Regions from separate parts of the Homo sapiens genome. Here regions 1 and 2 are each linked to region 3. The links come from fine-mapping of genetic effects on gene expression. A gene starts in region 3. Each other region holds a variant in brackets. All regions are shown on one strand. Distances are between the middles of the regions. Region 1 overlaps RBX1 (ring-box 1). Region 2 has its middle 56 kb from the start of RBX1. Region 3 holds the start of SLC25A17 (solute carrier family 25 member 17).

Evidence for each region. PIP is the estimated chance that this variant, and not a neighbour inherited with it, causes the effect.
Region 1: its variant is the best candidate, but not a certain one, in a credible set for the expression of SLC25A17 in prefrontal cortex (BrainSeq, PIP 0.50).
Region 2: its variant is the best candidate, but not a certain one, in a credible set for the expression of SLC25A17 in tibial nerve (GTEx, PIP 0.86).

What each region holds. Positions count from the first base shown.
Region 1 is chr22:40,960,192-40,965,412 of GRCh38, forward strand. It overlaps RBX1 (ring-box 1), which reads left to right. Exons shown (of 5, transcript NM_014248.4): 3 at 3,856-3,926. Among named protein-coding and RNA genes, the nearest start is that of RBX1, 11 kb to the left of the region's middle. The variant T/G (reference allele first, on the strand shown) is at 2,698.
Region 2 is chr22:41,005,086-41,010,309 of GRCh38, forward strand. No RefSeq gene overlaps it. Among named protein-coding and RNA genes, the nearest start is that of RBX1, 56 kb to the left of the region's middle. The variant A/G (reference allele first, on the strand shown) is at 2,755.
Region 3 is chr22:40,816,659-40,821,882 of GRCh38, forward strand. SLC25A17 (solute carrier family 25 member 17) reads right to left here and starts at 2,688. Exons shown (of 9, transcript NM_006358.4): 1 at 2,537-2,688. The coding sequence starts at 2,590. RefSeq lists an enhancer at 661-720.

The DNA of each region.
Region 1 (5,221 bases), 140 kb after region 3:
CAAGAGCCTAATTTGCACTTGGCATAGAAAGACCAGGTCCCTGCTCTGTGGGAGCTTTGAGTTGAGGGGGAAGGAGGGAGGTCAGGTATGTAAAGAGATACTCATAATTGATGTGTTAAGAGTGCCTGAAGGAGAGGAAAATGACTCAGGGTGGAAGAGTCAGGAAAAGCTTCAGTCAAGAAGTAGGGATTTAAGCTGGGTCTTGAAGGGTGGGGAGGACTTGAGAGTGATAGGAGGAGGAGCATGTTCCAGGTATGGCAGGGACGAAGGAAAGGACTCTACCGTGAAGGGAGCCTGAAGGGTTCTTTAGGTTAGTAGTGCCATGGCCACAGTCAAAAGAAAGACCCAGATCAAATTTAAACACGATAATGTACCTTGAAACAGTTTTGATTTTCACTTTAATAATTGTGGCTCTTATTTAGCTAATTTTATAATACATAGTCTTCCTCTAAGTTAGAGGATCCAGCTTAAAGGACATCATATTTACTTTTCTCTGCCATTCTTTTAATTATAGTAGTGTATTCCAGTTTCAATAAGTTCTTAAATACACTGCATAGACCCTAGATCCCTTTTTTGTTTGTTTTTAAGATGGAGTCTCGCTCTTTCACCCAGGGTAGAGTGCAGTGGCGCGATCCCAGCTCACTGCAACCTCTGCCTGCCAGGTTCCAGCGATTCTCCTGCCTCAGCCTCTCTAGTAGCTGGGATTATAGGCATGCGCCACCCACCACACCCGGTTAATTGTTTGTATTTTTAGAAGAGACAGAGTTTCGCCATGTTGGCCAGGCTGGTCTCGAACTCCTGACCTCAGATGATCTGCCTGCCTCGACTTCCCAAAGTGCTGGGATTACAGACATGAGCCACCACGCCCGGCCGAGCCACCGTGCCTGGCCTTTTTTTTTTTTTTTTTTTTTTTGATAACAAGGTTTTGCTCTGTCACCTAGGCTGGAGTGCAGTGGTACGATCATGGTGCACTGCAGCCTCAACCGCCTGTGCTCAAGCCATTCTCCTGCCTCAGCCTCCTTAGTAGCTGGGACCACAGGCATGTGCTACCACAACTGGCTAATTTTTTTATTTCTAGAGATGAGATGTTGCTGTGTTGCCCAGCCTGGTCTTGAATTCGTGGGCTAAAGTGATCCTGCTGCCTTGGCCTCCCAAAGTGCTGGGATTACAGGTGTGAGCGACTGTGCCTGACCCAATTCTTTATTTTTATTTTATTTTATTATTTTTATTTTTATTTTTTGAGACAGAGTCTCGCTCTGTTACCCAGGCTGGAGCGCAGTGGTGCGATCTTGGCTCACTGCAAGCTCCGCCTCCCGGGTTCACACCATTCTCCTGCCTCAGCCTCCTGAGTAGCTGGGACTACAGGTGCCCGCCACCACGCCTGGCTAATTTTTAAATATTTTTAGTAGAAACCATGTTAGCCAGGATGGGCTCGATCTCCTGACCTCGTGACCCACCCGCCTCAGCCTCCCAAAACGCTGGGATTATAGGCGTGAGCCACCGGGCCTGGCCCCAATTCTTTATTTTTATCAGTTGGCAAACCAAGTTACTCTGTAGTGTGAATCTGGCTAGCAAAAGTAAGTGCTTTGCTTTCTCTGTGTGTGTGTGTGTGTGTGTCAGCCTTACTCTGTCACCCAGGCTGGAATGCAGTGGTGTGATCTCGGCTCACTGCAGCCTCTGCCTCCTGGGTTCAAGTGATTCTCCTGCCTCAGCCTCCTGAGTAGCTGGGATTACAGATATCCACCACCATGCCTGGCTAATTTTTGCCTTCTTAGTAGAGAGGGGGTTTTGCCATGTTTGCCAGGCTGGTCTCGAACCCTGACATCAAGTGATCCGTCACCCTCGTCCTTCCAAAGCATTGGGATTGCAGGCGTGAGCCACTACTCCCAGCCTTTTATGGTTTGTTTGTTTGTTTGTTTGTTTTTTGAGACAGAGTCTTGCTCTTTTGCCCAGGCTGGAGTACAGTGGTGTGCAACTTCGGCTCACTGCAACCTCTGCCCCTTGGGTTCAAGCAATTCTCCTACCTCAGCCTCCCAAGTAACTGGGATTGCAGACATGTACCACCATGCACCACTAACTTTTGTATTTTTAGTAGAGATTGGGTTTTGCCGTGTTGGTCAGGCTGGTCTCGAATTCCTGACTTCAGCCTCTCATAGTGCTGGCATTACAGGTGTGAGCCAACATGCCCGGCCCACTTTCCACATTTTCGAAGAGTGAAAAGAAAAAGGTATTATCATGGTATCTCTTCCCCTAAAACCACACATGCCCATTAACATCTAGTTTTGTTTTTTTTAATAGTTTTACTTTTTTTTTTTTTTTTTTGAGACAGAGTCTCACTGTGTCACCCAGGCTGGAGTGCAGTGGCGCAGTCTTGGCTCACTGCAACCTCTGCCTCCCGGATTCAAGCAATTCTTCTGCCTCAGCCTCCTGAATAGCTGGGACTACAGGCGCCCACCACCACACACACCTGGCTAATTTTTATTTATTTTTTTATTTTTATTTTTATTTATTTATTTTTTGAGACGGAGTCTTGCACTGTCGCCCAGGCTCCAGTGCAGTGATGCAATCTTGGCTCACTGCAAGCTCCGCCTCCTGGGTTCAAGCAATTCTCCTGCCTCAGCCTCCTGAGTAGCTGGGACTACAGGCACCCGCCACCACGCCCAGCTAATTTTTTTTTTTTTTTTTTAGTAGAGACGG[T/G]GTTTCACTATGTTGGCCAGGATGGTCTCAAAGTCCTGACCTCATGATGTGCCTGCCTCGGCCTCCCAAAGTGCTGAGATTACAGGAGTGAGCCATCGCGCCTGGCCTACTCCTGGCTAGTTTTTCATATTTTTAGTAGAGACAGGTTTCACCATGTTGGGTGGGCTAGTCTTGAACTCCTGACCTCGTGATCCGCCTGCCTCAGCCTCCCAAAGTGCTGGGATTACAGGTGTGAGCCACCACGCCCAGCCATAGTTTTACTATTTTTCACCTGTAGTAGTTTGAAGTAATTCTCCCCTATTAAATAGTTTCTCCTGAAGCTTTTTATTCTTCAGAAGGGAGACTCCATTTAGTTACTATGATCAGAGAAAGCAAGTTATGCATTAGTAATTCTTGTTCTGTGAATATTTATCCCCAGTTGTGCTTTACCCATCAGATCTTGATCTCAGTCAAGAACTCATTGCAGGCCAGGTGCGGTGGCTCATGCCTGTAATCCCAGCACTTTGGGAGGCTGAGGTGGGCGGATCACCTGAGGTCAGGAGTTTGAGACCAGCCTGGCCAACACGGAGAAACCCCATCTCTACTAAAAATACAAAATTAGCCAGGCATGGTGGTGTGCGCCTGTTAATTCCAGCTACTTGGGAGTCTGAGACACGAGAATCGCTTGAACTCGGGGGGCGGAGGTTGCAGTGAGCCAAGATTGTGCTATTGCACTTCAGCCTGGGCAACAAGAGGGAAACTCCATCTCAAAAGGAAAAAAACTCAGTCTAGGCAACATGGTGAAACTCCATCTCTACAAAAAATACAAACAATTAGCTGGTGTGGTGGCACGCACCTGTAGTCCCAGCTACTCAGGAGGCTGAGGGAGAATCACCTAAGCCCAGGAAGTCAAGGCTGCAGTGAGCCATGCTCATGCCACTGCACTGTAGCCTGGGCAACGGGAGTGAGATGTGCATTTCCCATTTGTTACTCTTTTTAAACAAGGATAGGAAATCGTCAGAAAGCATACTGTTATCTCTGTCTTCTCTGTTCTTCCTTTCCCACATTCATTAAAAAACAATTATGGCTAATTAACCACTTGAGAATTGTTTTGGCTGCTATAGATTGAAACGTTGCTGCTCCCAAGGTCCAGTGATCCTGTTGCTCTTGTTCCCACAGGCATAGAATGTCAAGCTAACCAGGCGTCCGCTACTTCAGAAGAGTGTACTGTCGCATGGGGAGTCTGTAACGTAAGGAAGCATCTTTACCTGTCAGCATGGCTTGTAAACATATTTCCACTTTTCCTGCTTTGCTAGTCTTGAAAATAACTAGGGAAAAAAATGACTAGTCCACCTTTCTCCCAAAAGGTATACAAATAGTAAAAAAGATTTTAAATCATAATACTATTCACCTGTTACAGGGTAAAAATTACAGTTACTGCAAAGAGGCACTTATTTGTCTTAATTATAAAGTGGACCCAATTTTGTTAGCAGTATTTTGGGGCTTCATCTATGGGAATTGCCTTCAAAACCTACATGCACCCTTTGGAATATTCTCGTGGTAGAACTTTGTACCTTTGAAACAGGCTTTTTTAAAGACCAGGTGTCTAATGGAACTAAGTTTGATGAGTAAATTGAGTGTTGAAGTCTCTGTGTATGTGTGTTTTAAGTGTGGCGTATGTACTGAGATAAGATTATTTTTTAACATGGCTTATGCCAGAAATGTTTTGTGTAGCTTTATTGGACTGAATGGCCTTCCAAGAGTGTGACAGCTGTGAAGGATAACAAATATCAAATATGTTAGTTCTAGCATGTGTTAAAAATTCATTCTTTAAGCTGTAAAGTCCCAGTCACATGAGCTAAAATTGTCTTGTCAGGGCCTCCTGTGTCATGGGGACAGAATACTCACAGTTCCCAGCATGACACAGGGATAAGAGATTCTAGAGTCAGACCACCATTCCCTGTCTTTGTGACTTACTTGCTAAGTGACGTTAGGCAAGGCATTTAACGTCTCCAATCCTGGGTTCCCTCATAAAATGGGGCTGATAGTGGACCACATAAAATTGTAATCCGGATTAGATGATTTATGTTAAAATGTGATTAAACAACTCCCGGCACATAGTAAGCACAAGTGCTTGTTAAAAAAAATCTAAATAGGCCGGACGCGGTGGCTCACGCCTGTAATCCCAGCACTCTGGGAGGCCGAGGCGGGTGCATCATGAGGTCAGCAGATGGAGACATCCTGGCTAACACAGTGAAACCCCGTCTCTACTAAAAATACAAAAAATTAGCCGGGTGTGGTGGCAGGCGCCTGTAGTCCCAGCTACTCGGGAGGCTGAGGCAGGAGAATGGCGTGAACCTGGGAGGTGGAGCTTGTAGTGAGCCGAGACCACACCACTGCACTCCAGCCTGGGTGACAAAGTGAGACTCTGTCTCAAAAAAAAAAAAATCTAAATAAATACAAATTTGAGGTAGAGGTGTTACTGTGTAGATGGTGTTCTCAGTAGTTTTTCCTGTTGGGTTGCAACTCTTTTTCCTACCTACAC
Region 2 (5,224 bases), 190 kb after region 3:
GAATTTTAATTCCCTCAAGCTGGGAGAATCATCCCTGCCCTGCCTTACTCTTGGGCTGGTGTGAGGATCAAGTATGACAGTGGAGAAAAAATAGTCGTAGCAGTGCTAACAACTCCACGGCCTGATCCTGAATATCCAACTGCCCGTTAGATATATTCACGTGCATGTTTAACTGGGATCTATATCTCTTTTTTTTTTTAAGATGGAGTCTTGCTCTGTTGCCCAGGCTAGAGTGCAGTGGCACGATCTCGGCTCACTGCAACCTCCACCTCCTGGGTTTAAGCAATTCTCCTGCCTCAGCCTCCCAAGTAGCTGGGATTACAGGCGCCCACAACCACGCCTGGCTAATGTTTATATTTTTAGTAGAGATGGGGTTTCACCATCTTGGCCAGGCTGGTCTCAAACTCCTAACCTCAAGATCCACCCACCTCAGCCTCCCAGAGTGCTGGGATTACAGATGTGAGCCACCACACCTGGCCAGCATCTGTATCTTAATACATCCAAAATTGAGCTCCAGGCCAGGCACAGTGGCTCACACTTGTAATCCCAGCACTTTGGGAGGCAAAAACAGATGGATCACTTGAGGCCAGGAGTTCAAGACCAGCCTGGCCAACACAGTGAAATCCCGTCTCTACCAAAAAATAAAAAAATTAGCTGGACCTGGTAGCACACACCTGTAATCCCAGATACTCGGGAGGCTGAAGCAAGAGAATCACTTGAATTTGGGAGGCAGAGATTACAGTGAGCCGAGATCACACCGCTGCACTCCAGCCTGGGCAGTGACAGAGAGAGACTGTCTCAATAAAACAAACAACAACAACAACAAAAACAGAAAAAAATTGAGCCCCTGATTACCCCACTCCCAAACCTCTTTCATGTCCAGCCTAGCCCGTTTCAGTTGGTGGCAACTCATTCCTTACATTTTTCAGACTCAAAACCCTCCAGCCATCCTTGGCTCTCTCTCATACTACACATCCAACCCCTCAGGAAATAAAGCTATATATATATATCCAGAATCCGGAAGCTGAGGCAGGAGCCTCAGGAGCCTCGCTTGAGCAGGAACCTTAGGAGGCAGGAGGCTTACTTGAGCCCAGGAGTTCCAGGCTGCAGTGAGCTATGATTGCACCACTGCACTCTAGCCTGGGTTACAGACTGAGACCTTGTCTCAAAAAAAAATATATATATATGTGTGTGTGTGTGTGTGTGTGTGTGTGTGTGTGTGTGTGTGTGTGTATCCAGAATCCAACCATTTGTCACCACCACTGCTACCCCCTTGGCACCTAGTACTGAATTCTCTCTGCCCCTCTCTCCCCTTGTTCTTTACAGTCTATGCTCATCCAGGCAGCTGGGGTTAGCCTTTATTTTAATAATCTAAAGCTGGGAGTGGTGGCTCATGCCTGTAATCCCAGCTCTTTGGGTGGCCAAAGCAGGTGGATCACTTGAGGCCAGGAGTTCAAGACCAGCCTGGCCAACATAGCGAAACCCTTCTCTCCAAAAAATATAAAAAATTAACCAGGCATGGTGGCATGCTCCTGTAATCCCAGCTACTTGGGAGGCTGAGGCACAAGAATTGCTTGGGCCTGGGAGGCAGAGGTTTCAGTGAACCAAGATTGCACCACTGCACTCCAGCCTGGGTGACAGAGCAAGATTCCATCTCAAAAAAAATTATTATTATTATTATTTTTTTGACACAGGGTCTCACTCTGTCACCCAGGCTAGAGTACAGTGGCACAATCATAGCTCACTGCAGCATTAAACTCCTGGACTCAGGTGATCCACCCACTTCAAATTCCCCAATAGCTGGGACTACAGGTGCACATTACCATGCCCAGCTAATTTTCAAAAAATTTTTTGTAGAGATGAGGGTCTCGCTGTGTTGCCCAGGCTGGTCTTGAACTCCTGGCCTCAAGCAATCCTCCCACCTCAGCCTCCCAAAGTGTTGGGATTACAGGCATAAGCCACCATGCCCAGCCCCTGAGTTACATTTTAAAGGCTAACCCAGCCTGGGTGACAGAGCAATACCCTGTCTCTGAAAATAATAAAAGAAGAAAAGACTAATAACCCAAAATGTAAGTTAGATTGTGTTGTTTCTATGCTCAAAGCCCTGCCGTAGCTTCTCTTTACTTGGCTGGTGATGACCTACGTGATATGGCCACTTTACCTCTGACTTCATCCCTGTCACTTTCCCTAGCTCACTCCACTCCATCCACCCCACCTAAAGAATTTCACACTGGCCTGCTCCTTCTGTGCAAATACCCTTTCCTGAGATATGGCACATCTGTCTCCCTTCCTGCCAGTCTTTCTTTTTATTTTTTTATTTATTTTTATTTTTATTTTTGAGATGGAGTTTCGCTCTTGTCACCCAGGCTGGAGTGCAGTGGCATGATCTTGGCTCACCACAACCTCCGCCTCCTGGGTTCAAGCAATTCTCCTGCCTCAGCCTCCTGAGTAGCTGGGATTACAGGTGTGCGCCACCACACTCGGCTAATTTTGTATTTTTAGTAGAGACGGGGTTTCTCCTTGTTGGTCAGAATGGTCTCAAACTCCCAATCTCAGGTGATCTGCCTGCCTTTGCCTCCCAAAGTGCTGGGATGCCATGTGAGCCACCGTGCCCAGCCTATTATTAATTTTTTGAGATAGAGTCTCATTCTGTCACCAGGCTGGAGTGCTTGGTGCAATTTCCACTCATTGCAACCTCCTGGACTCAAGCGATTCTCTTGCCTCAGCCTCCTGAGTAGCTGGGACTACAGGTGC[A/G]CACCACCACACCCAGCTAATTTTTGTATTTTTAGTAGTGATGGGGTTTCACCATGTTAGCCAGGCTGGTCTCGAACTCCTGACCTCAAGTGATCCACCCGCCTTGGTCTCCCAAAGTGCTGGGACTGCAGGCATGAGCCACCATGCCTGACCCCAGTGTCACTTTCTAATGCGGCCTTCTAATAGGGCCACCCTATTTAAAATGACAACCCAATCCATCCTTCTTCCTCTGCATCCCCTCCCCCACTCTATTTTCTTCTTCCATAACATCTTTCACCTTCCAATGATACTTCATTTACTCTTTCCTTGTGTTTATTGTCCCTCTCCCTGGCCTGAACAGAAACCCCATGACAGAAGGGTCTTGGCATGTTTTGTCCAGTGCCTAGAAAGGACCCTGCATGTAGTAGGCACTTGATACATATTTGTTGAATTAGTAAACAATACTACTAACAATGATGTTGGCCGGGTGTGGTGGCTCATGCCTATAATCCCAGCACTTTGGGAGGCCGAGGCAGGCAGATCACGAGGTCAGGAGATTGAGACCATCCTGGCTATCACGGTGAAAACCCATCTCTACTAAAAACAAAAAAAAATTAGCCGAGTGTGGTGGTGGGCGCCTATAGTTCCAGCTGCTGGGGAGGCTGAGGCAGGAGAATGGTGTCAACCCTTGAGGCGGAGCTTGCAGTGAGCCAACATCATGCCACTGCATTCCAGCCTGGGTGACAGAGCGAGACACTGTCTCAAAAAATAAATAAATAATAAATACATAAATAAAGTATCACAAAATATTTTTTAATTAAAAAATAAATACTGGTGACCATTTATTAAGCCCATTACCCACATGCTCTACAAGCATTCCATGTAAACCTCATAAGCAAGGTGGAATTTTTTTGCTTCCATTTTACAGTTAGGGAACCTAAGGCAGATGGTGTTTTAAGCGACTTGCCCAAATCAGCAGAGCTAGCTCCATAGCAGGGAAGGATTTGAGCCCAGGTTTTTAGTTGCCTTTGGAACTCTTGGTCTTTTCTACTTCGCTCAGTGTTCACTGTAGCTGCATGTAACATGGCTCACTCATTCATTCACTTGTTCATTTAGTAAATATTTCCCAAGCCTCCTCCATCCCTCCGCCACCCAAAATGCCAGGCCCTGTCCTGCACACTGGGGACCCATACATCCATGGGTCACGGACCTTGCCCCAGAGGAGCTCTGGTCCCACGGCCTGGGCAATAAGTGTCCCTGTGGGCTTCATTTTTGTTTTCTATTTTTTAAGAGACAGGGTCTTGCTCTGTTACCCAGGCTGGAGTATAGTGGTACCATCACAGCTCACTGCAGCCTCAAACTCCTGGGCTCAAGTGTTTCTCTTGCCTCAGCCTCCCAAGTAGCTGAGACTATAGGCATGCACCTCCACGCCTGGCTAAAGTTTTGTTTTGTTGGTTTTTTTTTTTTTTTTTTTTTTGAGCCTCTATGCCCCAGGCTCAAGCAATCCTGCCTATGTTGCTCAGGCTGACCTCACACTCCTGGGCTCAAGCCATCTTCCACCTCAGCCTCCCAAAGTGCTAGGGTTACATGCATGAGCCATCACATCTGGCTCCCACGGGGGGTTTTGTAAACTGAACAAAGGGAGCTCCCTTTCCCCAGCAATTCATCCCTGGAGTCCATATGAACCAATGTTCCTCATTTACAGCAGAAAAAGCAGCTTCCCATGCTCTAACCCCTGCCTGCTCCTCAGCTGAATGAGGCTGACAGGTGCACACCCTGCAGCATCCTGCACCTCACCAGGTAAACAGGCCTGAAAGAGGGAGGCCATGGGTGTGGGCACAGGCTCAGGGCCAAGCTGACCTCGCAAAGGCTGAGGGGCGGGAAGAACAGGAGGAAGTGTGGGCAATGGGGAGCTGCTGGGTCTGGAGCAATTACCATTGCCACATGGTGAAGACACCAGCCCAGAGGCTGACCTGGGGCTGAGCAGAGCCCAGCAGTAGGGTAGGAAGGGGCCCACCCTTGCTCCTCCAGCTCCCTTTTCTCCCCACCCCTCAACCCCAAACTCTGTCCCTCCTCCTCACTGCCCTGCTGTCAGTTCACCTCCTTTAACCCTTTCCTCCCGTGCCTCCCAAGGAAAAGGGGAAACTAACAGGCCAACTGATCTTCAACGGCCATGGAGCTTCGTTTCTTAAAAATTCATTAAGAGGCCAGGCGCAGTGGCTCATGCCTGTAATCCCAGCACTTTGGGAAGCCAATGGAGGTGGATCACTTGTGGTCAGGAGTTCGAGACCAGCCTGGTCAACATGGTGGAACCCCGTCCCTACAAAAAATACAAAAACGCGCTGGGCATGGTGGTGCATGCCTATAATCTCAGCTACTCGGGAGGCTGAGGCAAGAGAATCATTTGAACCTGGGAGGCGGAGGTTGCAGTGACCTGAGATTGCATCACTGCACTCCAGTCTGGGCGACAGAGGGAGATTCTGTCTCCAAA
Region 3 (5,224 bases):
GGAGTGCAATGGCACAATTTTGGCTCACTGCAACCTCTGCCTCCCAGGTTCAAGTGATTCTCCTGCTTCAGCCTCCCGAGTAGCTGGGATTACAGGCGCCCACCACCATGCCTGGCTACTTTTTGTATTTTTAGTAGAGACGGGGTTTCACCATGTTAGCCAGGCTGGCCTCGAACTCCTGACCTCAGGCGATCCGCCTGCCTCAGCCTCCCAAAGTGCTGGGATTACAGGCGTGAGCCACCGCACCCAGCCTATTCATTTATTGTCTGACTCCCCTATTGCAATGCATAGTTCATGAAGAAAAAGACCTTCTCTACTGTACTCCTTGCACCTAGAACAGCGTGTGGCACATAGAATGCACTCAATAAAGGTGTTTAATGAACATTTATTGCAAGAAGGAAGAGAAAAACATTTCCCATCTTCTCACTTTCTTCTCTTAGATGCACTCCAACTATTTCCCCCACCACTCCACCAAAACTGGTCTTTTCAATTAACCACTGGATTTATCAACATGATAAATTCTCAGTTATTTCTCAGTCCTCACCTTACTTGACCCATCAGCAGCATCTGACCCAGCTGGTCTACTTCCTTCCCCAGAAACACTTTCTTCACGTGGCTTTCACTCTTAGTTCTTAGCTTCCCTCCTGCAGTACTGATCCATCCTTCGTTTGTCTCCTTTGCTGGTGCAATCTTATTTTCTCGGCCTCTTAATGGTTAGCCTGCTCCAAGACTCAGTCATTGAGATTCTTCTGTCAGTCCATACACACTTCCCTAGTGAGCTCATCTAGTCTCACGACTACTCTTAGGCATTTCAAACTCCTCCAAAACCAAAGCCAAATTTATCATTTCCCCCAAAACCTTCTCCTTCACAGCCTCTGCCATCCCAGTAAATACCACCATCCCTCCAGTTACTGAAGCCAAAAACTCTTGGAGTCAACCAACCCTCATTTTATAAATATATTCCAGGTCAATGATCACTTCTACCATGTCTGCTACCACCCGGATCCAAGTCACCATCATCTCTCGCCTGATAATTGCTTGTCCCCTGTTCCCTTACATTCTACTCTCAACACAGCAGCCAGGGTGATCACGTTTAAAGGTAAATCAGCAAGTTCAACAGCTAGCCAGAGTGAAAGTCTCACACAATTTGGCCCCCTGAAACCTATTTGCCTCTTTGTTCCCTCCACTCCGGAAACACAGGCCTCCATGCCCATCTTAAAGCAAGTCACGCAAGCGTCCATCTCAGCCTTCATGCTGGCTGAAAGGCTCTTCTGGCTGAACTGAATGAACCAGGCTTCCTGAATTAGGCATTTTCATGAAATGCTGTGTCACTTAATTCTCTAAACTCTGTGAGGTAGGTATCACTTCCCCCACTTTACAGATTAAGAAAGTAAGGTTTACAGGGCATCTAGCTAACAAATGATGGAGTTAGGGTTAAATCCAGATTAGTCTACAGAGAAGGTGAGCTCTCAGTGAAGTTTCTGGAGGCTAAACAGAGGATTCAGTGATGTTCCTCTGAAGTCACAGTGATTTTAACAGCTAAAGGTGTGTGCTAACAACTGGTGAAGAATATGAGAAAAGGCAGTCAAAGAGATAAAAGAACCACAAGAGGAGTCACCCAAGCCAAAAGTGGAAAGTTTTAAGGAAAAGAGGGGAGAGGGGAAGTGTCAAGTGGAACCTAGACACCAGAAGCCCAAGAATCAAGCGTATACCTCATAACAAACCACACTTGTGGTAGACAGGAACCCAGATCTTGATTTAGAAAGAAAGAAAAAAAAGCCAGGCACAGTGGCTCATGCCAGCAGTTTAGGACGCCAAATCGAGAGGATCGTTTGAGGCCAGGAATTCGAGACCAGCCTGGGCAACACTGCCAGACCCCAAAAATTTTTTTTAAAAATGTAGCCGGGTGTGGTGGCTCACACCTGCAGTCCCAGCTACTCAGGAAGCTGAGGTGGGCGGATCGCTGGAGCCCGGGAGATCGAGGCTGCAGTGAGTCGTGATCGCGCCACTGCACTCCAGCTTGGGCAACAGAGCAAGACCCTGTCCGGAAAAAAAAAAAAAAAAAAAAGGATCTATCTTCTCCTGCCAATAACGGTGCCCAGAGCTATCCTACTAGGTATTGCCACTTGCCCGCGGCAAGCGTGAAGACAGGCTGTAGGGAAGCATGTGACTAAGCAACACGGCTTCACACCTACGTTCTCCTCCGGGCCAGTAAAGCAAAGTGTGTGAGTGTGCGGTGGTAGCCTGACCTTAAACTTCCCACGGCAAAGATGCGGACCCTGAGCGGGCACGTGTGAACACGGCTCTCTACCCCGCAGTCTCTAGGAGACCAGGAGGTGGCGGAGTCTCGGCCCTTACCCCGAATTCCTCCAACAACTTTCCGCCAATGGCCCATTCCTCTCTGCCCCACAGTCATGACAGTGGACCCCAACCCACACTACCTCCCTCTCAGACCCATCCCTCAGGCATATCCCGGGACTGGCCCCCGAGAAGCCTTATAACCCGTTGCGGCCCGGGCGTAAAGACCCCGTCTCACCACGGCTCCGGCCACGGCGTGGACCAGGCTTTCGTAGGACAGCACGGAAGCCATTGGTGCGGCTCCTCGAAGACCCAGCCACACTTTTCCCACAGATGCCGCAGCCAGTGGAGTTAGGAAAGGAGCACCGGAGCTCAGGGTGTGAGAGTCGCAATCCCCGCCCTCTCAAACCCGCCCGCCTGCCCTAGAACCACTTCCGGGTCGCGGGGCGGGAAAGCGGGGGGGGGGGGGCGGCTAAGAACGCCCCTGAACGCTGATTGGCCCCTGTGGGCGCGGGGCGGGACAGCGAGGTGTTCGCGGGGCTGGGCTCCAAGGCGCAAGGCGGCCTGACACCAGGTACCCGGCTCCCGGTTCCTCCGACGTTCTCTGGCGTTCCCGGGCCCTGACCAGTTCCTCCATCTCAGAAGTCTTAATGGCCTTCTTTTACTCTGGTGACAAAGATGGGGAAACTCAATGAGACTCCAGTCTCCCTGTTTCTCTGCGCCTGAGCTCTTTTCTATTCTGAAAGTCACATTTTGGCCAAGAGGAAAAAAACTCACTTGTGGACTTGGAAACTTCTTCCTCCAGAAAAACCCTTGAGTGTGGTGGGAAGAGATGTTGAGCATCAGGAGCCCAAAATACAAGACGCGAGTGGGAGCCTCCCCCTAGTTGGCAACTATGGAAGTCATTTAACCTCTTGGGTTTCCTCTGTGAAATGACAATGTACTAGTACCAACAATCCCCATCTGCTGTGAGGATTACGAAAGCCAATTTATGTAGTAGTACTTCATAAAATACTGAAGGAAAAAAATTTTTTTCCATGTTGCAAAGTGACTAACAAAATTACACAAAACTAAAGCAGCCACATTCAGCTTTAACCTGTCATACTGTGAGATTCTGCTTCAGGATGCTCCTCAGGGACTCAGGGATTCTTTCCTGAGACACCATCACCACTTGTCTTTACCATGTTTCCTTTTAGAATATCCTCGTGATAACTCCTCAGTGCTGACTACATGCCAGGCTTAGTGTTTTATGCCCATCATCACACTTAATCCCTGGGAGAGGGGTCTAACAAAGTTTAACCTGGCCGTTTTCACAAAATTTGCAGAAGATACTGCTTCCAGGAACATTCCCATCACGCCATAGAATCATGACGTGAAAGTGAAGGACCAAAAGTGAAGCGAAGATGATTTTGGGCTGGGCGCAGCGGCTCAGGCCTGTAATCCTAGCACTTTGGGAGGCCGTAGCGGGCAGATCACTTGAGGTCAGAAGTTTGAGACAAGCCTGGCCCATATGGCAAAACCCTGTCTCTATTAAAAATAGAAAAAATTAGCCGGACATGGTGGCACGCGCCTTGTAGAAATTACAATGTTGAAACTGCAGCTACTAGGGAGGCTGAGGCAGGAGAATCGCTTGAACCCAGGAAGCAAAGGTTGCAGTGAGCCAAGATTGCACCACTGCACTCTAGCCTGGGACAGAGTGAGACTCCTAAAAAAAAAAAAAAAAAGATTATTTTGGCATGGGAACATAGAAACTAGTTGGCTGTAAAACTTGAGAACTCAGTTCTCATTGACTCCTGATCAAATTGGGAGCTTGCTGTCAAGAATATACTGGATTATGCATCATAGTTATGAAAACATTGTTAATACTTTGTTTTGACGTTTTTGTATCTTACATACCAAAAACATTTTGATCAGCTTTTTTTTTTTTTTAAACCTGAGACAGTGTTTCTCTGCGTTGTCCAGGCTGGTCTTGTACTCCTGGGCTCAAGTGATCCACCTGCTTCAGCCACCCAAAGTGCTCGTATTACAGGCATGAGCCACTGTACCGGGCCTTGCAACCTTTTTTTTTTTTTTCAGATGGAGTTTCACTCTTGTGGCCCAGGCTTGGCTCACTGCAACCTCCGCCTCCCGGGTTCAAGTGATTCTCCTACCTCAGCCTCTCGAGTAGCTGGGATTACAGGCATGCGCTACCACGCCCAGCTAATTTTTGTATTTTTAGTAGAGACGGGGTTTCATCATGTTGGTCAGGATGGTCTCAAATCTCTTGACCTCGTGGTCCGCCCGCCTCGGCCTCCCAAAGTGCTGGGATTACAGGTGTGAGCCACAGCGCCCAGCATGATCAACTGAAGACTGACATACTGAAAACAGTATTTTTTTTTTTTTTTTTGAGACGGAGTATCGCTCTGTCACCTAGGCTGGAGTGCAGTGACGCGATCTTGACTCATGTTAGCCTCCATCTCCCGGGTTCAAGTGATTCTCCTGCCTCAGCCTCCCGAGTAGCTGGGACTACAGGTGCACGCCCCCATACCTGGCTCATTTTTGTATTTTTAGTGGAGACAGGGTTTCACCATGTTGGCCAGGCTGGTCTCGAACTCCTGACCTCAGGTGATCCACACACCTCGGCCTCCCAAAGTGCTCAAATTAGAGGTGTGAGCACTGCACCCAGCCAAAGTCATTTTCATATAATCAGTATGCACTGAAAAACGTAGACACTGCATAGCTACATCAGTTATTAACTGGAACTATGAAGCTGTGATGTTCGAGACACACACATACATACATATATATATACACGTATATATATATATATACGTATATATATATACGTATATATACGTATATATATATATATATATATATACACACATATACGTATATATATATATATATTTTTTTTTTTTTGAGACAGTTTTGCTCTTGTCGCCCA